Linked DNA regions of Homo sapiens: region 1 is linked to region 2. The links come from fine-mapping of genetic effects on gene expression. A gene starts in region 2. The other region holds a variant in brackets. All regions are shown on one strand. Distances are from middle to middle.

Region 1 (14,290 bases), 140 kb before region 2:
GTGGAGGATGGGGTTCAGGGTGCCATGGTATGAGAAGACAGGAGATCAGCCTCGAGAAGGAGGCTGGGGTGTGCTTTGAAGAGCCCTGCATCTCTGGCAGAGACTGGGCAATGGGACATTGTGGGGCAGGCACATCAATAACTCTGTTTTTTTTTTTTTTAATTTTTATTTTTTAAAGAGATGGGGGTCCCACTATGCTGCCCAGGCTGGTCTCGAACTCCTGGACTCAAGCGATCTGCCCGTCTCAGCCTCCCAAAGTGCTGGGACTACAGGTGTGACCCACTGTTCCCGGCTCAGTTACTCTGCTTTAGCATGCCAGCTCTGCCAGCCTGTGTGGAGAATACCCTGGAGGGGCAGAGGCGTGGGCAGGGAAACTAGCTTTAGGGGATGGGGGAGGAGATATGGAAGAGCTTGGAGCAGTTCAGGAGGTGGGGCTGAAAGTCTCCCTGGTCTGAGTCCAGGATGACTCCCATGGCTTGGGTGACCAAGTGGATGGTGGTGCCACTGCCTGAAATGGGAACCAGCCCAGGAAGAGGAGCAGGTTTGGGGCATGCTGGCTGAGAGGTCGGTGGGGTGGCCCAGGAGAGCTGGCTTGGGTCAGGTGGCAGGTCAGGTACTATGTCCTTGACACTGGGCACATGGAGGGGAGAGAATGGATGGGTGAAAAGGGGGTAAGCAGAGGCTTCAGACTGTGGGGGGTAGTGGGGACAGGTCCAGCTGACTCTGATTTTATCTATTTATCTATTTAGAGACAAGGTGTCACTCTGTCACCCAGGCTGGAGTGCAGTAGCTCAATCACGGCTCACTACAGCCTCAAACTCCTGCACTCAAGCCATCCTTCCACCTTGGCCTCCCAAGTAGCTGGAACTACAGGGGCACACCAACATGCCTGGCTAATTTTTTAATTTTTTTTTTTTTTTTTTGCAAAGACAAGATTTCACTATGCTGCCCAGGCTGGTCTCGAACTTCTGACCTCAAGTGATTCTCTTGCCTCAGCCTCCCAAAGTGGTGGGATTACAGGCATGAGCCACCACGCCCAGCCTGACTCTAATTTTAAAAGGAATACAAGAAAAGAGGCTTGTGGGCAGGTGTATCAGCCAGGGAAGAAAGTGGGGAGCCCAGAAAACTTGGAGGTTGAGGGGGTTTCTGGAGCTAGAGCTGCAGGCTGGAGATGGAGACTAGGCCAGGACGGCACACCAAGGAGCTTGGAGGCCAGATCCATGCCTAGGCCGTGGCCTAGGAGACCCTGGTCCCTGCTTAATTTTTGAGGCATGGAGACAGCCAGTAGAGCAGGGGCTTTCAAACTTTTTTGACCAAGACCCACCATAAAAAATACATTTTTTTTTTTTATACAGTTTCACTCTTGTTGCTCAGGCTGGAGTGCAATGGCACTATCTTGGCTTAATGCAACCTCTGCCTCCCAGGTTCAAGTGATTCTCCTGCCTCAGCCTCCCAAGTAGCTGGGATTACAGGCATCCACCACCACGTCTGGCTAATTTTTTGTATTTTTAGTAGAGACGGGGTTTCACCATGTTGGCCAGGCTGGTCTCAAACTCCTGACCTCAAGTGATCCACCCGCCCAGATGGGGAGCAGCAGTGGGTGGCACACGGAGGGGGGTGCTCGCCTCAGGCCTCAGTCTTACCTGATGGAGCGGATGACTGTCTTCACAGCAGGCATGATGTCGTCCACCGTGAGCTCACACTGGTAGCTCTTCTCCTCTGCTACTTCCTCTGAGGGGGCATCTGAAAAGGCAGGTATGGGGCAAGTGGCCCACCAAAGGGGCCACTCCCAACCTCCCATCCGACCCTTGTATGCCAAACCACCAGTAGAGTGTCCAATAGGAAGACAGAGGCCCAGAAAGGGCTCAGAACCTTCTTGGGGCTCCTGTGTCTCACTGCCCTCCCCAGGGTGGAAAGCCCCAGTGTGTTGCATGCCCATCTGCCCCGGTGGCCAGTCAGGGTAAACATCTGCCTGGTGGGTAGGTGGGAGCTGCTTTAGGGCACAGCTGGCCTAGTCCAGGGCAAGTTTGTTGCACAAAGCCCTGGAGGAAGCCCCACTGGTTCCACCTTGCAGAACAGTGAGCCCCAGAGATAAGGGGTTTGATGGCACTGCATGTAATCATGCACACAGTCTTCTCCTTCAGCTAAGATGGAAGGACACCCAAGTGGCTGGCTCCCAGGCCCAGCTCTGCTACTAGGGAAGGCCCTTAAAACAAACCATTCTTCCCTGAATGAGAGAAGCTTCTCTGAGGCTAGTGCCCTGTGTTGCGCAGAGAGGTGATGCTGTCCTTGCCTCACAGGAGCAGTGGCAAGAGCCCGGACAGCTTCCAGGACAGGGAAGGGAGGTCCTGGGCACCAGCTGTGCCCAGGCTTCTATGGGCAGCACCTCTCAAAGACTGGTCTATGGGGTTCTGTAAACTCTGAGGTGTCAGCCAGCAGCATCTTGAGGGCTGACACAGCACAGGCAGAAACAGCATGGCTGGGTCCCCTCCCTCCAAGGCCAAAGGGGGAGCTGTCCCCATCCCCCATCCTTGTGCACTCACCCCACCTCTCCCCACCCAGGGGCCTAAAGTATGTCAAAGCTGGGAGAAGTCTTCCAGGGGGCTTGGTCCAACCCTCTCATTTTCCTGAAGAGGACACTGAGGCATGGAAAGGGGCAGTCTCCTGCCTAAATCACAGTGGAAGTCTCCAGCAGAGCCAAAACTCAGAAAAGTGACATCAGCATGGTCCACAGTCTCATACTTGCAGCCTGGGCTGGGTGAAGAGGGGTAGGAAGAAGGCCTGGGCTTTGGAGCTGAATAGACCTGCTTGAGGAGAGCACCTCTGCCACTCACAAGCTGAGAGATCTCAGTGCCCACGTCTGTAAAGTGGGGACAAAAACAGAACCTACTTTCCAGGGTCACTGGGAGAAGTAAATGAGATAAGCCAGTGCTGGGCAGTGCATAGTCAGGGCTCATCAAGGATGCATTCCTGCCGCTTCCAAAGTACATTTGTGTTTAGCTATTTGTTGAGCACCTCCTATATTCCCAAAAGTCTTCTGTTCACCTTCCATGGATTATCTCATTTAATCCTCACAATAATCCTAGGAAGTGGATGCTATTATTGTTCCCATTTTATGAATGAGGAGAATGAGGCCCAGAGAAATTAGGTCACTCGCCTAAGATAAGTGACAAAGCCAGGATGCAAATCCAGGCAGTCTCGCTCCAAAGCCTGTGCTGCTAACCCCTATGAAATGCCACCCTCCACGTGATTCCCAAACAGTCTGATGTCCATTGTATAGCAGAGCAAATATTATAATGCCCATTTTACAGATGAGAAGACCAGAGCCCAAAGACGGTCCATCAGTTCCAGAGCTGAGACGCGAGCCAGATCTTTCTGCTCCCAGCCCAGACTGTCCCCGCCCTGCCACCCTCAGCCGGCCCTCGATCGGACTCAGCCCCCCGGGGGCTTACCCTCAGCAGAGGTGCGGGGTTTGAGTCTCAGAGATGCCCGGAAGCGGGTGCGGTCATTGAAGCTCCAGCTCTTTTGCACCTTGGTGGGGCTGGTGGCCTCACCCACCTGCTCGCTGCTTGGGGAGGTGGGCATTGTTGGAGGTGCCAGATGCTGCTTGGAAGGACCCGTCCGCCGCTGGGAGCTGCCCATGCGGATGCGGTCTTTGATGCCCATCCGGCTGCTGGCAGGGCAGGCAGGTTGGGAGAGAGCCAAGTTAGCCAGAGCTGGGGGTGGGGGTGAGTGGGGACAAAGCTGACTTAGGACTTGGGGGTGGCTATTAGGTCTGGATTCCCCGCCAAGCGGAGACTTCTTGGGATGGAACAAGGATGTGGTAAGGGAGGCCCTCACTCCTACAAGAGGCTGATTCGGGGTCAGTCGAAGCAGATCCTCTCCCCACCACCCACATCCCACCCCTCATCACCCGGACAGATAAGGGGTGCACAGGAGACAGATGTCAGAGTGGAAGGAGTGGGAGAAATCCAAAGTCAGAGACACAGACAGGAGGATGTGGGAGCTGGGCCTGGCGCAGGTGAGTGGGCAGAGGGTGGGGGTGGCGACCCCTTTGGGCACAGACAGGCTGCTGAGGGTCGGAAGCTCACCTGGCCATGCACACGGAGGTAGGCCTCCAGTCCTCACTGTACACAGGGGCAGGCTGTGTGGAGTCGAGGGTGTGTGTGTGTGCGCGCATGCACACACACACCTTGTGCACACACATGTGCGAGTGTGGGTGTACAGGCACTGGTGTGTGTACATATGTTGGCGTGTGTTTACATGTGTCATTTCATATTTTCCTCCACTCCCCACTGCTGCGGCTATCTGATCCCACACTGGTCAGGGTTTTAGGGCCTCGTACAGCTGTGCAGGCAGTGCACTGCAAAATAAGGACTCCATCACACAGACTTCCATGCAGTGGTGCCCTGGAGGTGTGCAGCGTGATGGCCTACTGAGGGCCTCGGCCCCATGGTTCTAGCTGCTGGGCCCACATGTATGCCCAGGCCATGCCTGGTGCCTGCCCTCTCAGTGAGGGTCTCTATTTGATAACATGTTCTTCTGTGGTCTCTCCTACCTAAGTTCAGCCCACCTTGATTGACATCCTGCCTGTGTGGTCTTGGATCCCCGCTAAAGATCTACCCCCCGATACTGCCTACTGAGCTCCCGGTTCAACAGCATTTACACAGTCTGTGTGCATGTGAACGTGTACGTGCACGTCTACACATGCACTCAGACTTCCCTTCCCGCATCCAACTCCCCACCACGTTCCCCAAACGTTGGAGGAAAACAAGTTAGCAGAGGCCTCATTCCCCAGGACAAGCCCTGGTTAACCATGATCTGGTAGAGTAACTCTGTGTCCAAGAGGTTCAAGGACAATGTTATGGCTGTTGGGGTAGGACCTATGCAAATGTCCTCCATCCCATGCCCTGTGACGTCATCGCTGCCTCCCCTGCTGTGGTTTGCCACTAGAGATTCCGACAGGTTCAGGTTCGGGTTCAGGGGGACCCACCCCAAATGTCTGGGGCCCCAGATCAAGAGAGTACCAGCCAGCCTTAGAGGAGACCTGAAGTGGGGCAGGAGTTGGGGGAGGACACCGTGTCACCTACTCTCAGAGGCTTTCAGATCAAGGGTTGAGCAGAGAAGAGATTCTGGTTTCGGTATTGGGTGGGAACTGGGGTCTCCCATGCCCAGGGCATGGGGTGGAGGGGAGGGAGCCAAGGTGCTGAAGTGAGGGAGACCTCGAAACCAGGGGCACCTTCAGGAAGGTGGCCAGGATGTAGGGCCATCCTTAGGGGTGGCGGCCTCTGCCCAGAGGGGAGAGGTTAATAGGTCAAGGATGGGGGCCCTGAGGGTATCAAAAGGACAGGGACAGTTCCCAGTTCCCACTATCCAGCATGCTCTCCACTGGCCCAGGACTCCATCGACACATCCCAAAGATTCCAATCAAAGTTTGAGGTTGGCTCTCCCAAACTTTCCTCTGCAGAGCCATTCCTGCAGGCTCCCTCATGCTGGCAAGCACCCTCCACCCTGCCCGGTCCGTGCAACCCCTTCTCCTGTCCTCCACTCCTCCAAGAGGGAGAGGAAGAGAGGAGAGTGGAGAAGGCCCTGACACTTTGGCCAAGGGCCTGGAACTCCACATCACTGCGCCCACCACATAAGGCTCCAATGGCGTTCTGGAGAAGAGGGCAACCTCCCTGTCAAAAGAAGTAATGCAAGCAAGGCTGAGCTTGCACTCAGCAGGACTTATGGAGGAAGGAGTTCGAGGGCTTGCACTAGAGACCTTGAAAGGTCCCTTTCCAGCTCTGATTCTGTGATGGTTGAGGAAGCTTCCAGTCTGGTTTGTGGGGTTCTGTAAGTTTCCAGCCAGCCAGAGGCCCTGAGCTCCTTTTTAATGCAAGAAGGCACTGTTTTCCCAGGAGTGGGTCTGGATTCCAGTTCCTTGGGCAGGGCCCAGAAAATGGCTCATATCAGCTCCTCTAAGTCTGAAAGCTAAAAGAAGGTGGAAGAAAACCTGGCACACAGTGGGCACCAAAAAGCTCTTTCCCCTCCCAGGCTCCCAGAACGTGCAGGGTCCCATCAGGCTGCCTTAGTTCTTTCAGTTCTCTCAGCCACTGTGTGTGGTGGGCGGTCTTTACCATCCCTATTTTATATACACGGAAAGAGGTGAGATGATTTGGCCAAGGTCACAGAGCTCCTATGAGATGGAGCAAGAACTGGAACCCAGCCTTCTCTGACTTCAGAGTCTATGTTCTTTTTCTGGGTCAAGCAATCAGGATAGGGTGTAGAGCAGTGGTTCTCAACTGGAGCAAGTTCCCCCACTCAGGGGACATGTGGCAATGTCTAGTAGGTAGACATCTAGTAGGTAGAGGCCAAGGGTGCTGTTCCACATCCTACCATGCATGTGATAGTCGCAATCCACAAAGAATTATCTAATGTCAATGATGCCAAGGTCAAGAAACTCTGGCTAAGGATCTGTTGGTACCTGGGAGAAAGATGGGGTGGGCTGGACTGTGGCTGCCCTGCTGGGGAGGCCGAGCTCTGCCCAGGCTGCCCTGCTGGTCCCAACCCCTTGAACTCACTTCCACAAGGACTTTCTTTAGGGCCTCATGATCTGCCCTCCCAGGGCCACTCTCACTGGGGGAACAGAGGCAGCCTACGACTTCTGAAGCCACATACAGCCCCTCTTCAGGGACTATGGAAACAGCCTCGCCACTGGCCTCTGCCATGGCTGTGTCCTTCCTGTCCACACCCTCCACAGCCAAAGGAGGCTTGCAAAATGGCGGGCCTGACCCAGAGACTCCTTAGCTCAACGCTTCAGCTCAAACCATTGCCCACAGCCATGGTTTCTAAGCTATTTTCTTTTAAGGTAAATAAGATCTTAACTGCTGAACATACCAAATCAAATAAGGCCAATATTTATTGGAGCCAGGTCCAGTTTTAGTGGAAGCAGACCCTATTTACATCTGCATTTTACATCTGAGGAAACTGAGGTGCAAAGGGGTCAGGTGATTTGCCCAAGGACACACGAATAGTGGGTAGTAGCTAGATTGTGGTCCAGAACCCACGTTTCTAGGAAAAAACACCTCTCAGCAGAAGCACACATGGGCAGCCAGGAGCCCTGCCACTCATCTCCTAGCTCCGGGACCCCAGCCCACAGGGCCCCAGAGGCACCTTTGGAAACCCAGGACTCCATGAGCTCAGGCTGCCAAGCATGCCAACAGGGTGAAGCTCACACTGGGCTTTTAGGTTCTGCATGACCCAGCTCTGCCCCCAACCTTCGCTCTGATGTCCAGTCTCAGGGGGGCCAAACTGGGCTGCCAGCTTTTTTCCCCACACTGTGCTCCCTCTTGCCTCCTTGCTTGGGTCCGTGCTGCTTCACTGCCTGGAATGCCCTCCCTGAAACCCACTGCTTTTAGGGCTTCCTCTGGGTTGTGTGCCTGACCCGGGCTCCACAGCCCCTGTGCTTCCTCCCTTTGTTGCACTCATCACACTGAGCTGCAATTACTCTTTGCAACTCTCCGAGGACGATGTTTTATTCATCACCGTGTCCCTAGTGCACAGAGCAAGTCCTGGCACAGGGCAGGTACCAAGGAATGCCATGGAGATGCCGCTAAAAGAGCTGGGGTCCTGGAGCTGGCAAAGGTGCCAAACCCAGCTCCTTCAGGCATCTGCTAGGTCCCCAGGTGGGTAGCAGGGAGACAGAAAGCTAAGCCCAAGGCCTGGCAAAAGTCAGAGTGAGAAGGACCCTCAGAGGTCCTCTAGTTCAATCTGCCCATTCCACAGACGGAAAACTGAGGTCCAAGAAGGGAAGCAATTTGGCCAAGATCACAGAGGGCATCAGCAGCAGAGCCAGCACACATCCTTAAGGCTCCTGCACGTGCCCCTCCTGGCACCCTGGGCCCATGCCCCAGACCTAGCAGAGGCATCCCAGAAAGGCGAGGGGTTCACTGGGCACCCAAGGCAGACGGCAGGCGGCAGGCACATGCACCTTGTCCTTGGCCCATCCTGTCCCCTCTCCAGCCCCCAAATTGGGTGGGGCAAGGAGGAGTGGGGACAGGAGGAGCAGGCGAGGGGGTACCTCGGTCTCCAGCTGGCGTGGATCCGAAAGAAACTCCGTTTATTATTAAACATCTGGCTGGAAGTTTGAGAATAAGACACGAACAGAGGTTAGCGGGAAAGGGGCTGTGGGCAGAGTGTGGGGAGCTGCTGGGATGGGGCCGGCCTCCGGTAGCTGGTGGGAAAGAAGGACCCCCACCTAAATCATCCTCCAGCCCCATCACCAGAACGTAGATGTTCTCACACTTTGCATAGGGATCCCCTGGGGACCATGTTACATATGCAGAAGGCTGTGTCTCTTCTCCAGAGATTCTGATCCTGTGGGCTTGGAGACAGGTCCAGGTATCTGCATTTTGAACAAACACTCCATGGGATGCTGATGCAGGAGGTCTGGAGACCATGGTTTGATAAACTCATTGCAAAACCCTGAAGAGGAGAGGTGCTGGCCCTGGCAATGCCATCCCCCAGGAAATCCTGCTCCTTTAGCACCACTTCCTGTGGGCACACTTGGCCCAGGTCCATCCCCAAGCACCACCAGAGGTGTGGCCAACCGAGTGTGTATATGTGTGTGTGTTTTTGGTGGAGGAAGGGTGTCCTGGCTGGCGGTCTAGACAGCCACGATTAACGATACGGCCATTGGGCCTGAGCCTGGTGACTGATCTACAAACCATGGCTCAGCCCCCTGGGGTCCCTGGGAGAAAGGGCCACTTTACTACCATCACCCTGTGTCCCAGACACTCGCCAAGTCCCCTCCCAGGCAGATAGATACGAGGCTGGGAGTCAGTGACAGCCAAGCCCTTAGTAGTAATCTGTTCCTGGGCCCTGGGGGTGTCAGGGACCAAAGGAGCCGTGGGGAGTGTACAGGTACTAGGCCCCAGGCTAATGTCCATTCCCCTTGCCTTCCTATTCAGTCAAAATGAGACCAGAGTGAACTGGAAGCACAGAGAGCCCTGGCTCAGGTCCTGGACAGGATTGCTGGGATACAAAAACTCTTGAGTTTCCGCCTGGAAACTATGTTTGGTAGGGATGAAGGTAACAATGAGGGACCTTCGGGCAGAGAATCTGAGAGGGGCCCTACTCTCCCAGGGAGCTCTCAGCCTGGCCTGGCAGTCACGCTTCCCCTCCCTCCAGCCCCAGACCTGGAGGGACTCTCCCTCTCCACCCACTTCCTGTTCAGCCCCTGGCCCAGAAGTGCCCTCACTGAGAACAAGGAAGGGAGGCTGCTCCCTGCATCCTCTGCACCAAAACTCCTCCCTAGGCCTTTTCAGCCCAGAAACTCTAGAGTACCCAGAGCCCCAATCAGCCTAAACACTGCCGATTTTCCGCCAGGACACACAGGTTCAGAATGACTGAAGGCTTCCTCCAGGACACACAGCATCGGGTGGCAGAGGCGAGCTTCCACCACGCCTCCCCTGCTGATCACTGGGCGGCTCGCCTCTTCTCCTATTCTTTGTTCTGGGCCTGGGGCTCAGAATGACATTGAAGCTCAAAGGCCAGATGTCCATTTGGCTGGTTCAGGGGTGATGTGTGAAGATGAGACAAAACAAAGAGATGGGTAAAGGACGAGGGAAAAAGAATGAGGGGGATTTAACCCCTGACCTCAAAGCTAAACCTCTACAAGAGCAGCCACTTTCCCATGCTGTGAGTGGACGGGCTTCCCTTATCCAAACATGCCTGAAATTCTTCTCTTTAGGAACGTTTATGTGGGGGTAAGCATTGTTTGTTCTTTGTTCTTCTTTCAAGATTTTGTAAAAAGCTTCAGGAGAGACAGTTCAAGGGGAAAGAGATGGCTGGGAGCGCCAAAGTGTACCTCAGTAAGGAAGGAAACAGAACCCCAAGAGGACCCTCTGGGATTAGCAAAGTTGCAGACAAGGGCTGCACAAGAAAGGAACATTAGTCACTGGCTGAGTTTACGCAGGTCCTACAGAGGTCTTAATCACAGAGCTCTCTTTCCAGCTGGCATCTCGTTCCCAAGAGGCGAGTTCAGTACTAAGTCCCTCCTAGAGCAACATGCCGGGGGAGGGGGTTCCCTGCCCTCACACCCCAGGATGGTGCCCACGATTACCTGAGCC[G/A]TAAGCACCTGTGGCCAGTGGCCTCCTCCTCTGTCCAGCTTCCCGGGAGGGATGGGGGTGCAGGGATGGAGGAGTAAGGGGGACGTGGGAACAGAGAAAGAAAGAGGACAATGCCATGAACGGAGGAGATGATGGGAAAGGATGGCATGGACATCTCTCCCACTCAGACCCTCAGAGCCCCACAGGACAAAAAGGTGAGTCCAGCCTGACCCCTCCAGAGAGGCCCTCAGTCTGTACCTGTCTGGCCCTCTGACGGCCTAGGAGTCCCCCAAACAGGCCCAGACACCCACGAAGTGGCTGAAGGCAGGTCTGAGAGAGGATGAAGACAGAGAATGGAAGAAGAGGAGGAGAAGCAAGAGGAGGTGGCAGCCCCACGGGGCCCCTACCTTTCCCCAGGGCAGAAGGAGGTGCTGCCCGGCCGGTGGCAGGTGGCAACGGGCGGGTAACGGGAGGGTGCTCCGTCGGGTACCGGCGCCCGCCGCACCTCCAGGGGCCGTAGGCCCCCATTGCGGGCCCGTTGCACGTGCTCAAACAAGAGGGCCAGCTCTCTGCAGGAGAGGGCACCATCAGTGGCAGGCAGGGCCATGGCACCACCCCCCTCACCCAGTGGGCACAGAGCTCCTGAGCTCAGATCTTGCCAGGTCCTGCTGCTCTAGAGGTGTTCACTGACAGCCCGGCCAGAATAGGACAGGGTGGACAGTGGGAGACTGGCCTTCCCCACTCCCTTTCTACCCCCAGTTCCCAGGGATGCCAAGCATGGATGTGAAGGCTGGCACAGCTCAAGGGCAGCCGTGCAAGGAGCTTACTCTCAGCCCATCAAGCTGACTGCCTGAACGTGCCGTGCCTCCTCAGAGAGGCCAGCAGTGGCCCTGACATCCTTTCCCTCCAGATCTGACTCTGGATTTTAAGGGGAGATGGAGGTGAGGAGGGCGGTGTGACAGGGTGGCTAGCCCAGCTTCCTTCCCCTCCAGCACTCACTCTTGCCACTGGGTTTTTGAAGACTAGATTCGGGACCGTGGCTTCTTCCTAACTCTCCAGGCCATTTTCTGCTGCCATGAGCCAAGGAGGGTATCTTCCCTCTCTCCTGCCTGCCTTCCCATTGCATGGATGACCAAACTAAGGTCCAGGGAGCAGATGCCCAGTGGATCCAGAATCTCCAGACTAGGCTCTGTTCCTCTGGGCAGAGGTCCTAGACCATCTGACCACCCCCACCCCCAGATCTTCCCTCATACACATTGTATTTCTTACAAATCAGCCCTGCCCCACTCTCGAATGCCCAGCCTTGAACAAAAGGCCTCTCTTCTAATCTAGTCACCTTCCCACTCTGAGGTAGGAGCTTGCCTCTGCCGGGTGGAGAGATGTGGGGGCACCAGTGTGATGCTGGGAGCCCCTCTTCCCGGCCCCTTCTCTCCTGCTTCTCCCCTGGGAAGCCCCTAGGGCTGGGAGGGCGCAGGGATGGGGAAGCCAGGTGCAGAGGCGAGTGGAATCGCGCAACAGCTTCTCCTGGAGAACTAATGAGGCAAAAAAGGCACCCGCAGAAGCGCTGAGCACAGCATCCTGCCCCAGCCACAAGCTTGATGCCCGCCTGCCCGTGGGACCGAGCTGGGCTCCATGGTTTTCATTCCTGCCTGAGGGCCTAGCCAGGCACCTGGCCACACGCACCTTTGTGATGCTATTAATAATCCCTCTCCTGGTGCCACCCCCATGCAGTCTTAGCCTGGCCCGGGCCAGTGGGGCAGACCCACTTCTGGGCCCTGAGGCTGCTGACTGGCCCAGTAAAAGTGGGCACATATTCCTACATGGGGGTTCAGGGTAGGAGCATGCACCTAAGTCTGGAACACATGTTTCTGCCCATCCCACACTTTCTCCAACCAGCTGCAATATCCACTAACTCTGTCCCCCATTCAGGACTGAGGGGAGACGAGCTGGCTGTATCACTGCCCTAGATGGCATCACCTATGGGTGAGCATGCACACTGCCAGCACTCCAGGGCCGGGGTTCAGCCATGGGGCAGGGCTTCACCAATGCCCTATGTCCAGTATCCACCTCTTCCCTGGGCATAGCAGAGTGGAATAAAGGACACTCCAGGCTCTGAATTACATAGGATCTGCAGAGCCAGCCCAGGGTGCTCCCCTGGGAGCCATCACCCCCTTTCCACCCTCCAGGGTTGAGTCTCAGCCACTTGTCCTCAAAGGGCATTGCTGCCAGCCCCCCACCCACCCCCACCCCCAGCAGGACCTACCTGAAGGATGGGAGGATACTGTCATAGTAGTACCAGGTGGCTGTCAGGTAGGCCCGGCTCATATCGGTGGAGTACAGGCGCCAGGCAGCCTGGTGGTATGGGGGACGTGGGGGATGGGGCATCAGTGAGGCCTCTCAGTCCCCACCAGCCCTCTCCCCTGAAAGAACCCAGTCCTTGGTCCAGTTGTGGGTTACCCAGAGCCAGAGGCCAGTTCCAATTCCACAGCCACTGACAGGGGCAGCCAAGAAAGTAAGGCCTAGGGAGAAACGACTTCCCCGAGGGGACAAAGCAGATCAATGTCAGAGCCAGGGGCCATAGAGCATAGAGGTTAAGAGCTGGAGTTTTGTTGTCAGGCAGACATGGGTTTCCAATCCCAGCTCTGCCCCTTATTAGTGAGGACAAATTAAGTAAAGCTTCAGGACCTCAGTTTCTTCACCTGTAAAACGCATGTAACACTACTTGCCTACCAGGGTGTTGTGAGGATTAAATGAACAGTTGTATATTAAATGCCAAGCTCAGTGCCTGGTATATAGTAGGCACTTCATGCCAGGTTCCTCTGTTAAACACTCCTGTTATTCCCCTTATCACATTTGATGAATACCTATTCATTGTGTATTTGACTGATAACTTTCTCTCCCCCTAGACTGCAAGCTGTGTCTTTGTTACCGCTGCATTCTCAGTGCAAATATAGTGTCTGGCACATGTGGGTGCTTTGCAAATGTTTGCAGAATGTCATTATTATTACTAGCAATGCCACTCCATCTTTCCCAGCTGCCTGTCACTGCCCATGGGAATACTAAGGACTGAGAGGGGAGGAAAAGCATTACCTACCAACCCCTCAGCATCCATGGGCTTGCCGAGCTTCCTCTGCAGCAGGAGGGATGAAAGTCAGACAGGAGGAGAGACTGTCCCTCTCCCTCCACGTAGGAAGAGCCAGGGAGGGACTGTGAGTGTGGCCATCAGTGAGAGCAGGGAGGCATGGAGGCTGCTAGGCAGGACAAGGCAGAGCTGGGCCCTGGACGCCTCCCTTCTTTGGATGCCTCTTGTCCTTAAGGGGCTGCCACTGCTGACCTCACCAGCCAGGCACCCTCCTAAGACAGGAATATTTTTACTTCCTGCTTGCCTAGGCCCCTGGCATGGGCTGGGGAGCAGCTGCCAGAGCTGTCTCATTAATTATGGGCACCACAATACTAGCTGTCTCTTGGCATGGACAGTGCCAGCCGCCTGCCCCTACAATGCCCCTCAGAAGGCCAGCTCCCAGGGGACAGTGGCCATTGTGCCCCAAGGGACGCTAAGAAGAAAAGGCTGAGCTGGTGGCTGGAGATAACAGCGACAGGGAGGAGGGTTCTACCCTGGGGAGGAGAGATAAGGAAGGGCTGAGTGAGGCTTGGGTTTGGGGCTCAGAGGGTGACAGGCTAGGGAGCAGGCAGAGGTGGACTGGGCCAGTATTCCCTGAAGCATTTCCTGCAAGGAGTTCCCTTACACACACCCCTGACTAGAAAAAGCCAAGGCCTAGTCCCAGGGTCACAGAAAATCAGAGCCCTGGCCTCAGCCCACACACAGTCACAACACGCCATGGCACAGAGGGAAACTGAGACCACACACTCCTGGCTTCCTACCCACCCCTCTGGCTGTTCCTTCTGTCTCCTTGCCCAGCTCAACTTTGCAGGCCCACCCACCTGCTAAATGTTGAGATTCCTAAAAGCCCTGTCTGCACCATCCTCTCTTCATTTGTGTGAGTGCTTGTGGAATGAATGAATGAATGAAGGTGCTGGAAGTGGGGCAGGCTTACTGCTGCACAGCTGATGGGGGCAGCAGTGGGTCTCCACCAGAGGCCTCCCAGCTCCTGTCTGGGCTCCGCCCCTCCCCAGGCCCTGTGAAGTTGGGCTGGAGTTGGGCAATAGGGCAGTTCTGGCTAGCCCTAAACCAGGCATTT
Region 2 (16,009 bases):
TTCCACTCTTTAAACTACAAGTTTATACAATAGAAAGCTCTCATGAAGTACTGGATGTAGAAGTAATCTATCTGGAGATCTGAAAATAACAAAATGGAAAATACAACTCCAATACTGAAAATGAGTACAGGTGCTGTCTCACTGCTATCAGGTACATCACTGCTAACACATGGAGAAGTGTGGGAAGGGTGCAACAATTCCTGCAACCTAGCAAAATTTTCTGCAGGCAGAGAGATTTTTCCTGAACCATTCCACAATACTGTCTAACTGCTTACTTCAAAGAAAACGTTACTCAAGTGACTACAAATCACACAAACCAAACCAACGGTCCTACTTCAACTGATAATTTGTACAGTTAGAAAAATTTTAAATGACTATAATGGAAATCTCTCCTTCTGGTCAGAATGAAAACACCAGTTGTTCCGAATTTAATCATCATTGCTATTTGTCAAATATGAAGAAGTTTTCATCGCATCGCAATCATTACCACTCAACACTTGGGGATGAACAAAAGAGATCAGGAAACAATCTTTCCCTGAAACAAATGATCCTACTACTTTGTGCATTCAAAAGTAAGACTGACCTCACACTGGTCCACTGAAAATCAGCTCCTAAACCACAACAGCACAACTAAATTAGGTTACTTCATGTCAAGTGGTTGCTCTCCCATTTGGAAATCTTACTGTATATTGCAGAGCAGACAATTACAAAAGGCCTCACCCCTCCTCATCAAGGAAGCTGTAACGGGCTGAAAGGACAGATTTCATGCTGTTCCAAAATGAAAATGTGTTCTCCCACTTATTAAGGTCCACTAAGTGATAGGCATCTACCACACGCTATTATATTCATTTCTCATAATTACCCTACAGGTAGGTATTATTGTCGTTATTTTACAGAAGAAGAAACAAGTTAAGAACCTGCTCCAGCACAGAGGGTAAATGCACTGCAGAGACAGAACTCTTCCCTTGGTCTGACTCCAATCAGCAACTAATACTGTCCTCTCCCATAGGCACTTTTTGGCCAAAGTTTTAAAAATCCATTTCCTCCTGCAATTAATCTACTTACATTATATTGAGTGCTTTGAGTCTCTGCAGGAAAACACTAAAATGACCTTGTAGCCTTCCTAAACTGTGACAGTGCATGCATGAAAAACTGAATAAACAAAATGAAAAGAAAGACTGTAAGACATCAGATAACTCACAACCAGTTTCCTCTGAGAACAAGAAACAGAATGGAAAAGAACAACTTACTGGCAAAGGAATATTCTTCCTGGTTGTATGCCTGAGGCCAGGATTGACCTTAAGAAGGTCATTTGTGACCCTAGTAATGTCCTCTGCCATTCTCATTCCGGTGAATGAAGTAAACCTGTCACTTAAAGTCATCTCTGCCATCAAGTCAATGCGTCCACAGGAGAGGCAATGCTATCCAGTGGAATGAGCACCTATCTGGAAATCCAGTGATCTGGGCAAGATTTGGCTCTGCCCTTGCATAGCCAAGTGACCCTGTCAAGGTCATCTCACTCTTTTGGAGCCTCAGTACAAAGGACACGCCTGAAAGAACTGAAGTTCGCTTCCTGAGCTAAGAAGCCAGGACTTTTTTTCTTTTCCCATAACATTCTATGGTGTCAACACAGTGTTTAAGAGTAAGGGCTTCATTTACATAAGAATTAAGAATTACAAATCTGTGGCTGAGCACTGTGGCTAACACCTGTAATCCCACCACTTCAGGAGGCCGAAGAGGGCGGATCACGAGGTCAGGAGTTTGAGACCAGCCTGGCCAACACAGTGAAACCCCGTCTCTACTAAAAATACAAAAAATTAGCCAGGCATGGTGGCGGGCGTCTATAATCCCAGCTACTCAGGAGGCTGAGGCAAGAGAATCGCTTGAACCTGGGAGGCAGAGGTTGCAGTGAGCCAAGATCGCGCCATTGCACTCCAGTCTGGGGAAACAGTGCGAGACTCTATCTCAAAAAAAAAAAAAAAACAGAATTACAAATCCGTGTCTGAATCTGGGCTCTGCTACTTACTGGCTGTGAGAACTTAAGCAAATTACTTTTCAGTTTCCTCACACGTAAAAATGAGGGTGGCTATATTATCTACCTCATAGTGTATGAGAATAAATATACATAATACATTTATATCCCAGCTGGTACAATGTAAGCAAGCACTCAATAAAAGTAGTAACTATATTATCCCTGTGTTTGATTCACAGATCCTAGTGGCTCAGTACTTTTGAACTAAAAGATATAAATTTCAAAATTACCTCAAAAAGACACCCAGCATAGCCTGGCTGGGCACGGTGGCTCACGCCTATAATCCCAGCACTTTGGGAGGCCGAGGTGGGTGGATCACCTGAGGTCAGGAGTTGAAGACCAGCCTGGCTAACATGGTGGAAGCCCGTGTCTACTAAAAATACAAAAATTAGCTGGGTGTTGTGGTGCACACCTGTAATCCCAGCTACTCGGGAGGCTGAGGCAGGAGAATCGCTTGAACCCGGGAGACAGAGGTTGCAGTAAGCCAAGATCACACCACTGCAACTCCAGCCTGAGTGACAGAGTAAAACTCTCAAAAAACAAAACAAAACAAAACCCAAAACAAGACTCCCAGCATAGCTCCATAGCACAGAATGGGTTTAGCCCATATATGTTTACAATTCTGTGGTATGAATCCTCATTTCGCTTTGCCTTCATTTCTCTGAAAATAAAAGGGGATAAAAATGCCTTGTAAAATCTTCTCTAGTACAGTTTTGGGATTTTTATTTATTTTTTGGGAGACTGAGTCTCGCTGTGTTGCCCAGACTGGAGGGCAGTGACACAATCTCAGCTCACTGCAACCTCTACCTCCCGGGTTCCAGCAATTCTCCTGCCTCAGTCTTCCGAGTAGCTGGGATTACAGGCGCCCACCACCATGCCAGGCTAATTTTTGTAATTTTGTTTCATCATGTGTGCGAGGCTGGTCTCAAACTCCTGACTTCAAATACCACCTGCCTCAGCCTCCCAAAACGCTGGGATTAGAGGCGTGAGCCACTGCGCCCAGTCTCTAGTAGTTCTGACCAAAGAAAAAAATGTGTAAGTATAAATGAGATAACAGATTTGTCATAAGAATTAAATAAGATGCCATGAACACAGCCTATAAAGTATAAATCTTAGTATGATTTCTGCCTGAAGAAAAAGCTGAGGTTCACAAGTTTTCAACATAAACTCAGATCTACTGAGATTTCCTGAGAGTTCAAGATTTCTAGAGTGGTCAATTCCAGATCTTAACAAGGTGGCCATGGGTATAAGGGGCTAACATGGAATGAAGGTGGTCACCAATGTTGAAGGGCAGGTTGCTCCAGAAATGCCTGCTGAAAAAAAAAAGGTGTACATATACACTCATTTTTATCACCTTGTCTAGTCTTACTAAAAACGAAACTAAGTTATAGATCTACAGCATTCTTCATATTTGGTTAACTTGATGACTGAGCCAAATGAGGCTGAAATGACCAATGTACAAAATACATGGCAAACCCTATTTTCACTTGTAGCTTTGCCTCTATCTTCCACAGTGAAACGTTATTGTAAACAAAAATGAGGGAGGGCTTCACCTAAGCACATCAAGACATAAAGCAATTAAGATTTCCAACTCACTGGTCTCCTCTCAAACCCTGATTTAAAGGTTTCCATGCAAAATTGGAACTGCAAATATTTTGTCCTATCCAGTCTTAATTTTACACATTGTTCAGGATAAGCATATCCTAGAATCAATATCCCACAGTCTGAAGAAAGCACTAGGCCTTTGAATAGGTCCTGGTATTTGGGGACACCCTAAGGAACTGGTGATGCTTGAAAAACCTCTCCAGTGAGCTCTTTACACTAGGCACTTGGTAGTTCCTCGCCATTTGGCATAAATTACCTCCACATACAGAAAGACTATCTGCAATATTCTGAAGCTTGGTTTTAAGGAATGCAGATTCTTCAAGTTTCTGTACATATTTTTCCCCATTATCTACCTGGATTCAGGAAAAAATGCAGCAATTTACTTGGTAAATCTTCCCTTTCACAATAGAAGCCAAGGGATATGATTTGAATACCTAGCTGAAGAACCCATATTCTCTATGGTTACAATTCTGTGGTCTGAATCCTTAAGCAGCACAAGAAATTCTTAAGAATTATAGTCTTCCATTTTATACACTCTAAACACCCAGAAATCAAAGTAGATGATCCACTTGGAAATACAAAATTATCTGGAAGTTTCATTAGTCAGGTTTATGTTGATAGCTGATGTAGCAGATAAAATTACAGGCTTTGGCATCAGGCAACCAGGGTTTGAATTCTAGCTCAACCACTTACTGAGTGACACCAGACAAGCTACTTAAACTCTCTGATCCTCAGTTTCCTCATCTGCAATATGGGGACGATAATGCCTACCTATTGGAGTTAAAATATGCCCCAAAATAGCAATTCTCTTCCTCTGCTACTTATCAATTCCCTTCTCCAGAAAATGTAGTTGCATTCACATAAAACTAAATTTGAAAACCCTAGGAGTTTCTTGAAATTGGTATGAAAACAGAAGAGTACCATCTAAAGCTAAAAAGGACTACCTAACAAAAACAAGGAAAAACAAATTAGGAAAACACAGATGTTTAACATAAATGTGTTTCCATGGCCCTCACACACTGGGACGAGCAAATGTAAAGCAATACAAGTAACTACGATTCAGATTCAGTGGAAAAGAACATATTCCCAACAAGTTGACTGGAACGACTCTGGATTGGAATAAAAACTTTTTGAATATGAACCAGAAAGTGTTGACAAGTCCTGTTCCTTAAGAAGCTATGCATGGGCTTTTTTTTGGTTTGGAGCTGCTTATTTGAAAAAACAAACAAAAAATTCAAAGTACACATGGGAATGGGTATACTTTTTAGGCACATATACAAGGAAATAAACCAAGACCGAAAATTTCTGGCTAGCTCCCTTTCCCTTAAAGGGGAACCTAACAATATTTACTCAACAAATAACTACCAACTACCTAATATTTGCTAATGTGGCTTTGGAAACTCAGCCATGACCTGTATCCTTCCTAGAGCAGCAAATTTCATATACAACATCTCAAAACTACTTGTATGGTCCTGAGACTCAATAATGTATAACTGTTCTATTAATACACTTCCCAAGTCCGAAAATGTCCCCTAAAATGCTTCCTATATCAGATTTTGTCACTTTAAATCTGATACTACTTAATGCTGTGCTTCCTAGGCTCGGACAGAGCACACTTCTCAATAGCATTCCTCTCTCGGTTTACTTGCTCCTCACATCACATCCCAGGTCCGTTGACTCTGGACTCCAGGGCTCCACCAAAACCTCAGTGTTTGAATGCTTGCACTCTCCAGCAAAATCCCTGATCCGATTCTACCGTTCAGCTATGCCCCTAGCCCTGATGCCTTTCTTCCTACACCATACACTCACACCGTGGACTTCAGGGCCACTTCCAAACTGGGTCACATTAGCAACCCTGGATCTCGAAGACTCTCAGCCTGTCACTTGGGTTTCGGTGTTTCCAAGCCTGGAACCCTGAGGGCCTGCACACCCCAATCTTGGGCCATGCATGTACCAGGAAAAGCACCTCTGAAAGTGAGTGTCCCCCATTCCCAGGCCATGGCCTAAGCTACCCCCAAAGTACCTGCCAGGCCATCACCCTCTCTTCCCCCTTAAAGCCTCTAGGCTCGCCCTCTCGCCGCAACCCCACGCCTGCGCCGCAGGGGGTCATTGCCCCAGCCGCCCTAGCCCAAGACGCGCGCATCCCCGCAGCCTCAGATTCCTTCATCACCCCCTAGACCGGAGCTGGCGCGTCCAATAAGGTGCCAGGTCCGCGGCCTCCCCGCCACCGACCAATCACGAGCGAGCCCCCCCGCCGTCGCCTTCCGCCAATGGGAGAAAGCCCGCGGGCCGGGCCGACGAGGCACACGGACCCCACGAGCGCGGCGGCGGCGACAGCAGCGGGCCAGGCAAGAGCACAACATGGCGGCGGGCAGGACGGACCGAGCTACAGCAGCGGCCGCGCGAGGAAGTGAGGTCTCTGGCGAAGGCGGGAAGCGCTGCCCCTCCCCCCGCCGCCGCTTCCCTATCACCCTCGCACAGAAACTCCCGCACACTCACACACCTCTGCTCAGGAGTCCAGGAAGAGCAGGAGCCGCCCCCGCGCTCCTACGGAGTCGGGCAATGCAGAGGCCCAGGCGCGGCGGAGGGGAGGGGGAAGTGTGCGTCACGGAGAACGGAGCGCGCGCGAAGCGGGGGCACAAGCAAGATGGCGGCCACGCCGTTTGCACCGTTTCCCCTTTTCCCTTCCCCCTCCCTTGGCGCCTGGACTCCCAGTATCGTGCGGTGCGCAGAAGCTGTGCTCCTTGAGGTCTCGCGAGAATTGGGAAGGGGCGACGACAGAGGGAGGCGGAATGAGATCTGAGAGTTTTAACCCCGCCCCCTTTCGGGAGCTCGAGATCTGAGTTTTGACCCCGCCCCCTTTCGGGGGATCCGGAGGCGCTGCCCAGTGACCTCCACCACCCTGCCTATCCTTGTGGATCTCCTTGGTGCGAGCTTGAATTTTAGGAAATAAGTAGGTGTGTGCGCGTGCCCTTGAGTTTTAGGAACTAAGTAGGGGCGTGTGTGTGTATTTGTGTTTTTAATTTGGGGAGAAAGAACTGGGGGATGAAGGTCGACATGGCGTTCCAGATTAAGCATGCCGTTCAAGTAGACAGCTACTGGCACCTTAAATTCATAAAAGAGCATTTAGCACCAAACTGTAAAGTGATGTCCTCTAGAATAAAGAACAGTACTTACCAAGAATAGTTAGCTTGTAACCTTACGTCGACATAGTTGTTCTTATTTGAATGCAGATTTTAAAGTTTTATCACGCAGTTGGAAACCACAGCTACTATGAGCATGGATTTTTTCATACTTATCTCTTTCATTTCCGTGACCACTTGGTCCAAAGGCATCAGGATTGTATCCATTTTACAAATGATAAAACTGAAGCTCAAAAAGGTTAAGTAACTTGATCTAAGTCCCCACAGCTAGTAAGTGTCAAAACCCCATCCGAATAACTTCAAAACCTGTAGGTATAGTCATCAAATGTGTCTTGAATGGAATTACCTACAGTGAGAGTTAGTGCATTAGGTAACAAGCGCAGAGAGGAATGACTGCCTCTGCTGATGGTAACCTTGAATTTTACAAATGACACTGGAGCCTTTCTGAGACTAGTGTTGCATGGGTCCTCAATAAAATCACACTGTTGTTACTCACTTCCTTTGGGTTTATAACCCTGGTGATAAAGTAATTGAGAATAGTGGAGTAAACCCTCGACTTGAATTCAGGAAAATTGTTTTCAAATCCAGTTTCAATAAATCTCACATCAGGCACTCTATTTGATGAATGAATGAACAAAACCTAACTATAAGACACTTGACTTCAGGGAGTCTCAATTCCTTCATCTGTAAAAAGATCTAATTCCTAACTTTTGGTAATGTTGGGGAGAGTGAATGAAATAATGTGAGAGTGCTTCGTAAATTGCAAAAGTGTTATAAAGAAGTTACTGGTAAGAGCTACGAGTGTCTCGCTGCACTCTAGCATGGGCGACAGTGCGAGGCCCTGTCTCAGAAAAAAAAAAAGTTACTTATAATGACATTTTCAGACATGAGAAATGGCATAAAATTAAAAACAGATTCAAGAGAATAGTATGTTGAGATTGTAGAGACAGATGTAGCTAATGGAAAAAAGCTAAATAAGTCTCTCTACAGATGTTTATTGAGTACTTATTGCATATACTATGCTTGCCAAAAAATGTAAAAGTGTACATTTAGTTACAATGAAGCAGCACAAGTTATTATTAGTGATTATTGTTATAATTAAGTATTGATCACACTTAGGGGCTGCAGTCTATTTCCTTCCAAGAGCCTGGAAGTTGGGTTGCCCTCAGAAATAAATAAAAATCTACATAGAGGAAATTAGCTAAGAGTGATATTAAGTATATTTAACAACAAGTAGTGCTCAAGCATAGATGAAGCAGAATTAGAAATGCAGCTAGGATCCTGGAGGTATACGTCTGTGCTAGGTGTTAACCCTTCAGTTGCTGGTTTGTGAATAGGAGGTCCCAAGGGATCCCAGGGGAAGGGAGTGGTCAGGAGGTTTGGGACAGCAGCTATTTACCAGGTAGTACTAGAGTATTTCAGTATTTTAATAGTCAATGTTATAACTGATAACAGTCAATTGATACATATAAGCCTAATATTAGTCCTTGCTATAGTCTTTATTATCAATAGCCTCCGCCCTTCCCTTTCTAAAGCCGTTGCTATCTGGCCTGTCCCTAGGAGATTAGGGTGAAAGACTTCTCACCCTAATGTCGTCAAGCTTGGCCTTGTTTTGACCAATGAAATATGAGTAGAAATGGCATGAACCGGCCGGGCACGGTGGCTCACACCTGTAATCCCAGCACTTTGGGAGGCCGAGGTGGGTGGATGACGAGGTCAGGAGTTCAAGACCAGCCTGGCCAAGATGGTGAAGCCCTGTCTCTACTAAAAATAAAAAAATTAGCCAGGTGTGGTGGCAGGCACCTGCAATCCCAGCTACTCGGGAGGCTGAGGCAGGAGAATTGCTTTAACCAGGGAGTTGGAGGTTGCAGTGAGCAAATATCACGCCACTGCACTCCAGCCTGGGCGACAGAGTGAGACTCTGTCTCAAAAAAAGAAAGAAAGAAATGGCATGAACCACTTCTGAGCAGAAATTTATGAGCTATCTTACAATTTTGCCATATTATCTTTCCTCTGACACAAGAGCAGCATGTCCTAAATAGAGCTCCCTCTTCAGCTTTGGTCCCAGAATGAAGATGTGCAGAGCGACAGCTGACACACATAACCTGTAATGTTGTGTGAACAATAAATAAACCTTTGTTGTAAGCCACTGAGATTGTTTTCGTTGTTACTGCAGCATAACATGCTAGCTAAGCAGACTAATACAACCATGAAATTAGCTATCCATGGGGGTAAGCCAAGACCTTTTTTACAAACATGACCAAACAAAACAAAACAAACTCTGATAAAGGGCATATGGGAGGAACCTGAAGAAGGTAGATATTGTAATTTAATAAATGGAACCTAATCAATCTCGTCAGCCATTCTGTACCCTGTTTGGAGAGAGATTCTGTGAACAAAAGGGCTTGCTCAGCCATGGCAGCCCAAAACAAGGCAGTCACAAAGGCTAGCACTACCATTGCCCCTCTAAGCCTCATCTCAATTAAGCCACACTGAGCATTAGGATTTCCTTGCCCGTGTCATCTCTGTAGTGGATGGGAATATCTCAGACTGCCTCAGCTAAGAAATACTTCTTAAGATCAACATGCTTTCCTCTATGTTCACCCAGCAAGTGTCTTGGCGATAGGGACAGAATTAAGTGATCTGCCACCTAGAGTATTCTAGTTCTTTTGATCATTGTATTTTTCATTGTAACTAATCAGTTAGATTCCTCTTTATATAAAAGTTTCTGTGAGCTTGGCAAATACAAGACACCCCCTACCCCCAGGAAATGGTTCAACTTTCTGCTTACTATTAAAATTAGGTTTCTGAGTTTGCAAGGTTAAACATCAGTTCTTGTATCATGGTAAATTCCTTAAGGTTATAGCACTGTATAACAGAACCTGTCTAGACAGCCAGCTGGACTTCCTTAAGCCACACCTCTCTATCTCATTGTGTACCTTTGGCCTAAAAGAAAAGCAGCGCTGGCCAGGCGTGGTGGCTCACACCTGTAATTCCAGCACTTTGGGAGGCTGAGGCGGGCAGATCACGAGGTCAGGAGTTCGAGACCAGCCTGATCAACATGGTAAAACCCCGTCTCTACTGAAAATACAAAAATTAGCCGGGCATGGTGGCACACGCCTGTAATCCCAGCTACTCAGGAGGCTGAGGCAGGAGAATCACTTGAACCTGGGAGGCAGAGGTTGCAATGAGCCGAGATCGCACCATTGCACTCTAGCCTAGGTGACAGAGCGAGACTCTGTCTCAAAAAATAGAAAAGCGGCACTAAAAGATATAGTTCATGTGCTGCTGGAGTTCAAAAAGGGAAAGCTTACTTCCACTTAGTATGAAATAGTGGGAGGAGTTCAGGAAAGATTTGCAAGGATGTGACATTTGAACTGGGTCTTGAAAAATGAGTAAAATTAGGGAAGACATGTAGGCAGCCACTAAAGCAAATAGAAGAAGCGAGGGATCAGTTGAGGAAACACAGAGTAAGAGGGAATGGAAGAAGAATCATGGAAAGATACATTATTATGGTTAAATTAAGGCTCTTGGGCTTTATTTTCTGATACGGGAAGTGAGTGGTAGAAGTTTTTTGTTTTGCTTTTAAACAGGTTTAACCATTTTTTTTTTTTTTTTTTTTTAGGAGATGGAGTTTTGCTCTTGTTGCCGGGGCTGCAGTGCAATGGTGCAATCTCGGTTCACTGCGACCTCCGCCTCTCGGGTTCAAGCGATTCTCCTTTCTCAGCCTACCGAGTAGCTGGGATTACAGGCGCGTGCCACCAGGCCCGGCTAATTTTTGTGTTTTTAGTAGAGACGGGGTTTCATTATGTTGATCAGGCTGGTCTGGAACTCCTGACCTCAGGTGATCCACCTGCCTTGGCCTCCCAAAGTGCTGGGATTACAGACGTGAGCCACCGCCCCTGGCCTAAATTTAACCATCTTTAAGTATACATTTCAGTGACATTAAGCCTGTTCACGTTGTGCATCCATCAGCAGAATTTGTCATTATCCCATACTGAAATTCTGTATACGTTAAACGCTTACGCCCTATTCTCTTTTCCCCAGCCTCTGGTAACCACCATTCTACTTTCACCTTTTGGCCACTGTGAATGATGCTTCTGTGGACATTAGTATACAAATATCTGTTGGAGTCCCTGCTTTCAATTATTGGGGGTATATACCCAGAAGTGAAATTGCTGGATTATATGGCAATTCTTATGTTTAATTTTTTTTTTTTTTTGAGGAGCCACCATACTGTTTTCCATAGCATCATACCATTTTACATTCCCAATGGTAGAAGGTTTTACAGAAGATAGTGACATGATCAAAACTATGATTAAAAGCAATCTGGAAAAGAGAGTAAGATGGAGTAGAGTGGCAGAATGACCATGTGGAGACTTCCACAATGGTTTAGGCAAGATATAATGAGGGCGAGGGCCTGAACACATCATCAGCAATGAGAATGGAGGAAAGAGGATACAAATGCTGAGGTGATATTGCCAAGGAAAGATTGTAAGGACTTGACCATTGACTGGCGATTGAGGGGTTAGGGAACAAGAAAATTAAGGGTTTTTTTTGTTTTTGTTTTTGAGACGGAGTCTCATTCTGTCACCCAGGCTGGAGTGCAGTGGCGCAATCTCAGCTCACTGCAAACTCCGCCTCCCGGGTTCACGCCATTCTCCTGCCGCAGCCTCCCGAGTATGTGGGACTACAGGCACCAGCGACCATGCTCGGCTAATTTTTTTGTATTTTTTTAGTAGAAACGGTGGGTTTCACCGTGTTAGCCAGGAAGGTCTCGATCTCCTGACCTCATGATCCACCCACCTCAGCCTCCCAAAGTGCTGGGATTACAGGCGTGAGCCACTGTGCCCGGCCAAATTAAGGTGTTTAATATGACTCCCATGTGTCACACCTGGGAGGATGGTAGTCTTCAGATGAAGAGTCAGGGTATGGAGAAGTCATGAGTTCAAGTTTGGATATATAGAGTTCGAATTACAAGTGGCACATTGTAAGCTGTGGGGTGGACATTTGTTGTCTTGCCTGCTGAATACCCCTTGCCCTTTCAACTGGTAATGGCACTCTACTTTTTTTCTTTTGAGACAGAGTTTCGCTCTTGTCACCCAGGCTGGAGTGTAGTGGTGTGATCTCAGCTCACTGCAACCTCTGCCTCCCAGGTTCGAGCTATTCTCCTGCCTTAGCCTCCCAAGTAGCTGGGATTACAGGTGCCCACCACCACACCCAGCTAATTTTTTGTATTTTTAGTAAAGACGGGGTTTCACCATGTTGGCCAAGCTGGTCTTGAACTCCTGACCTCAGGTGATCTGCCCCCCTGCCTCAGCCTCCCGTAGTGCTGAGATTATAGGCGTAAGCCACTGCGTCCAGCCTACTTTTTTTTTTTTTCTTTAAAGGTTGTAGAATTTATCCTTCTTCATCTATGTATTGGCTAGGCTGGGAGGGTGTGTGGCCATGAGAATGTGCTTCTCAGATCTCTGACTGAGGAAATTGTAATTTACCAGCAGTCCAGCTGCTGAGTTCTGAAATCCATCCTGAGCTTTGAAATCCATTGCCCTTTACTCCGAGGTCTTACTTCCCATACGCTGCTCATAGCCAATAACTGAGCCCAACGGGGATTTTAGGACAGGACTGTTCCTGGGATAAGTGATACTCTTCCGATGGGTGACTTTGACTCAAGGACTCCTCAATGGCCTTGCCAAACTTTCCTTAGAACTTCATTGCAGTCTGAGACACTTCCACCTTGAACACCTTCCCTCTGTCCTTCACTCAGGGTCAGGCCTGCGTCACTGTGCGATGGCTCTCTCAGTCTTCCCCTTCCATTTCCTCTCATAATAAATTTTTTTATTTATTATATATTAATATATATTATATTATATAATATATATATAATATAATTATATTATATATTAATAATTATATATATTAATATATATAATATATATATTAATAAATTATGTTTTTCATAATAAATTTATTGCATTTTATTCTGTCTTGGCGTTTGATTTCCTGAGACTCTGAACTAACATGAAGGGAAAGAGGACAGGATGCATCCTACCATAGCACATCTTCTGTACCCCATTAGCCACAGGAGTAGGAACATGACCCAGTCTGACCAATCAGCGATCTCCCACATCTTGGCCCAGTACCTCCTCATAGCCTCTCAGGGTAATTTGGCTCCCAGACAATTAGCCACTTGGTCCACCTCAACAACAGACATAGCTGACCAAATCTAAGCGAGGTCTCACAGTTCTGTTGCTTGAGGCCATCAAGTTACAAACATGGAGTCTATGGCTTCTCCTGCAACTTCCAGACCCTGATGAAACACCACCTCACAGAGCGTGGGATTTGGCTTCCTGAGCAGCTGCTGAAGGAGCCAGTGAAGCAACCTACTACAGAGGATTTAGCTACCCACAGAGCAAACTGATCAATGGGAGACAGGAAGGAGCTGGCTATAACAATCCACTCTTCCCTTCCTTCCTCTAATGAGCTGTTTCAAGATAAAATTTCTCCATACAACCTGTCTAGAGAGACATTCTCCATGGCCAAGTGGGTGCGCCTGTCAAGAGACTAGCTACAGCTCATTGTGAAGTAGCCAGCAAACATTTCCTTCCCTTGCTTCTCATGTTTTCCCACTTTCTCTTATCCTTAATTCTCACTACTCCATGGCTGTGCCCCTCATATAAAGCTTTAGCACTTAATCCCTTCTTCCGGCTTTGTTTTCTAGGAAACCTTGCTAAAACAGATCACAGTTTTTGAAGAGATGGGCACATCACCCAAACTAAGCTAAGAAAAGCCCTTCTAAAGATTTGAAATATATAAGAAAGACAGGATTTTTCTTCTGGAGATCTTGAGCTATGAGGAACTGAGGGCAGCCATTATTCTTGCTTCATGGAAAGAGCCTTTCTAAGAATGAAGACATCACAGAGGAAGGCAGAATTCAGACAGAGAGGGAGACAGAGTCCTGACATCCTTTGAACACCTAGATCCAACTTTCCCCAATATGTGTAACCATTTTGTCATTGCTTTATCATTCTGAAGACCAGTTTTCCCAATCCATGTCATATAAAACATGGTAACCAATTAGTCCCAAGTTGCCTCCATTCAAAAAATCATCCAGGTGACTAGATTCTTAGGCTCAATTTCAAATTTCTGGGAGGAAGAGCTCTTGTTAGAGCTAGCTTTGGCCAAATGTCCACCACTGAATCAAGTATCATTATGGAAAGGGGGACAGGGTCATGCATAAACATGGTTGTATCTACTGTAACTCTATGAATGAAGGTATGCTGGAGGGTAGAGGATAGAGTAACACTTCTCAGAAAAGTAGGAGTAAAGGATTAGGCAGACTAAACAATGTCTGTCCACTTCCTGAGAATAAATAAAGGAAAAGAGGGTAAAGAGGTCAGAGGACAGAACCTTTATCTAACCAACACTATCCAACAGAGCTTTCTGCAGTGGTAGAAATGCTTTATATCTGTGCTGTTCAATACAGTAGCCACTAGCCACGTGTAGCTGTTGAGCATTTGAAAGATGGTTAGTGCAACCAAGAAATTGAATTTTTCATTTTGTTTACATTGAAATAGCTACAGGTAGTATCTTAGTTTTCTGCTGCTATAACAAAATACCAAAGACTGGGTAATTTATAAACAAAGGAAATGTATTTGGGTTGTGGTTCTGGAGGCTGGAAAGCCCAAGAGCATGGCACCAGCATTTGCTCGACATCTGGTGAGGGCCTTCTTGCCACACCATAACGTGGCAGAAGATATCACATGGTGAGGAAGTGTGCATGTGAGAGAGGGAGGGGGGCCAAACGTATCCTTTTATCTGGAGTCCACTCCCTCCATAACTAACCCATTCCCATGCATTAATCCATTTATGAGGGCAGAGCCCTCGTGACCTCATCACCTCTTAAGTGTTCCACTTCTCAACGTTGTTAAAATAGCAATTAAATTTCAACTTGAGTTTTGGAGGGACATTCAAACCATAGCATGTAGCGAATGACTGCATATTAGACAGCATAGGTCTAGACTATTGGTCTACTTTGGGAAGCAGCATGGAATATTGTCTGCAGCATGTGCTTTGAAGTTAGCCTGAGTTCGAGTCCCCATTCCATTTACTTAACCTCTCTGAGCTAGAGAGGTGAAAGATGCAAAGAAAGTTGTATGTAATACCACAAAGAGAGAAAGAGACAAAAGATCTGCAAAAGTTCAGCCAGGCACAGTGACTCATGCCTTTGGGAGGCCAAGGCAGGCAGATCATGAGGTCAGGAGTTCAAGACCAGCCTGGCCAACATGGTGAAACCCTATCTCTACTAAAAATACAAAAATTAGCTGGGTGTGATGGTAGGTGCTTGTAGGCCCAGCTACTCGGGAGGCTGAGGCAGGAGAATCGCTTGAACCCGGGAGGCAGAGGTTGCAGTGAGCCGAGATCACACCACTGCACTCCAGCCTGGTTGACAGAGCAAGATTCCATCTCAAAAAAAAAAAAAAAAAGATCTGCAAAGGGTCAAAGAATCAGCTGGATTTGGCAATTAAGGGACTATGAGTGAATTAAGACAGAGAAGTATTAAAAGTGTGATTGTTTAAAATCCAAACCAGCTATCCATCTACCTTTTGTACATCTGCTAAATTCCTTTCCTCTGGAGGGGGACTCCAGGCAGGGAGAGAATGGGAATGCAAAAGTTACCTCGTCTCTTAATCCTCTTGGTCACATGGGGAGCGAGAACTCAAAAGTGTGTCCTGAAGATGGGGTTCCAAGCCAAAAAAAAAATCAGAACCATGGTCAGTCACGGGGTGTGAAGCCAAAGGTGGGGTTGCCTAGTCCAAGGAAGCCACAAGGAAAGAACACCTCAAATACATACCCTCTTTACATAGCACTTACACTGTGGCTAGACTGTAAGTCCTTTAAGGTTCAGGGCTAAGTGTATGATGGTACTATCAGCCCCTGGTAAGTGCCTGGTACCATAATAGGTACTTAATTAACAATAGGTACCTAAACAACAACATTGAATGAATGAATGAATGAATGAAAGTAAGCCAGTCCACTCTCTAGTGCATGGTAGACATTCCATAATATAATGTTCATTAAGTTATTAGAGGGAGGCCAGGCATGGTGGCTCATGCCTGTAATCCCAGTACTTCAGGAGGCCAAGGCAGGCAGATCACCTGAGGTCAGGAGTTCAAGGCCAGCATGGCCAACATGGTGAAACTCCATCTCAACTAAAAATACAAAAATT

What was found.
Region 1: its variant is fine-mapped to the expression of NFYC in whole blood (TOPMed, PIP above 0.99).

What each region holds. Positions count from the first base shown.
Region 1 is chr1:40,820,467-40,834,756 of GRCh38, reverse strand. It overlaps KCNQ4 (potassium voltage-gated channel subfamily Q member 4), which reads right to left. Exons shown (of 14, transcript NM_004700.4): 8 at 12,355-12,443; 9 at 10,499-10,660; 10 at 3,453-3,673; 11 at 1,644-1,743. Among named protein-coding and RNA genes, the nearest start is that of CITED4, 35 kb to the left of the region's middle. RefSeq lists enhancers at 1-158, 9,307-10,210, 13,601-13,745, 13,643-13,787, 13,499-14,000 and cis regulatory regions at 13,665-13,682, 13,707-13,724. The variant G/A (reference allele first, on the strand shown) is at 10,113.
Region 2 is chr1:40,681,999-40,698,007 of GRCh38, reverse strand. It overlaps NFYC (nuclear transcription factor Y subunit gamma), which reads right to left and starts at 6,304. Exons shown (of 10, transcript NM_014223.5): 1 at 6,141-6,304. NFYC-AS1 (NFYC antisense RNA 1) reads left to right here and starts at 5,747. Exons shown (of 1, transcript NR_024567.1): 1 at 5,747-8,928. It also overlaps a transcript of RIMS3 not described here. RefSeq lists enhancers at 5,317-5,366, 5,387-5,556 and a silencer at 5,797-5,896.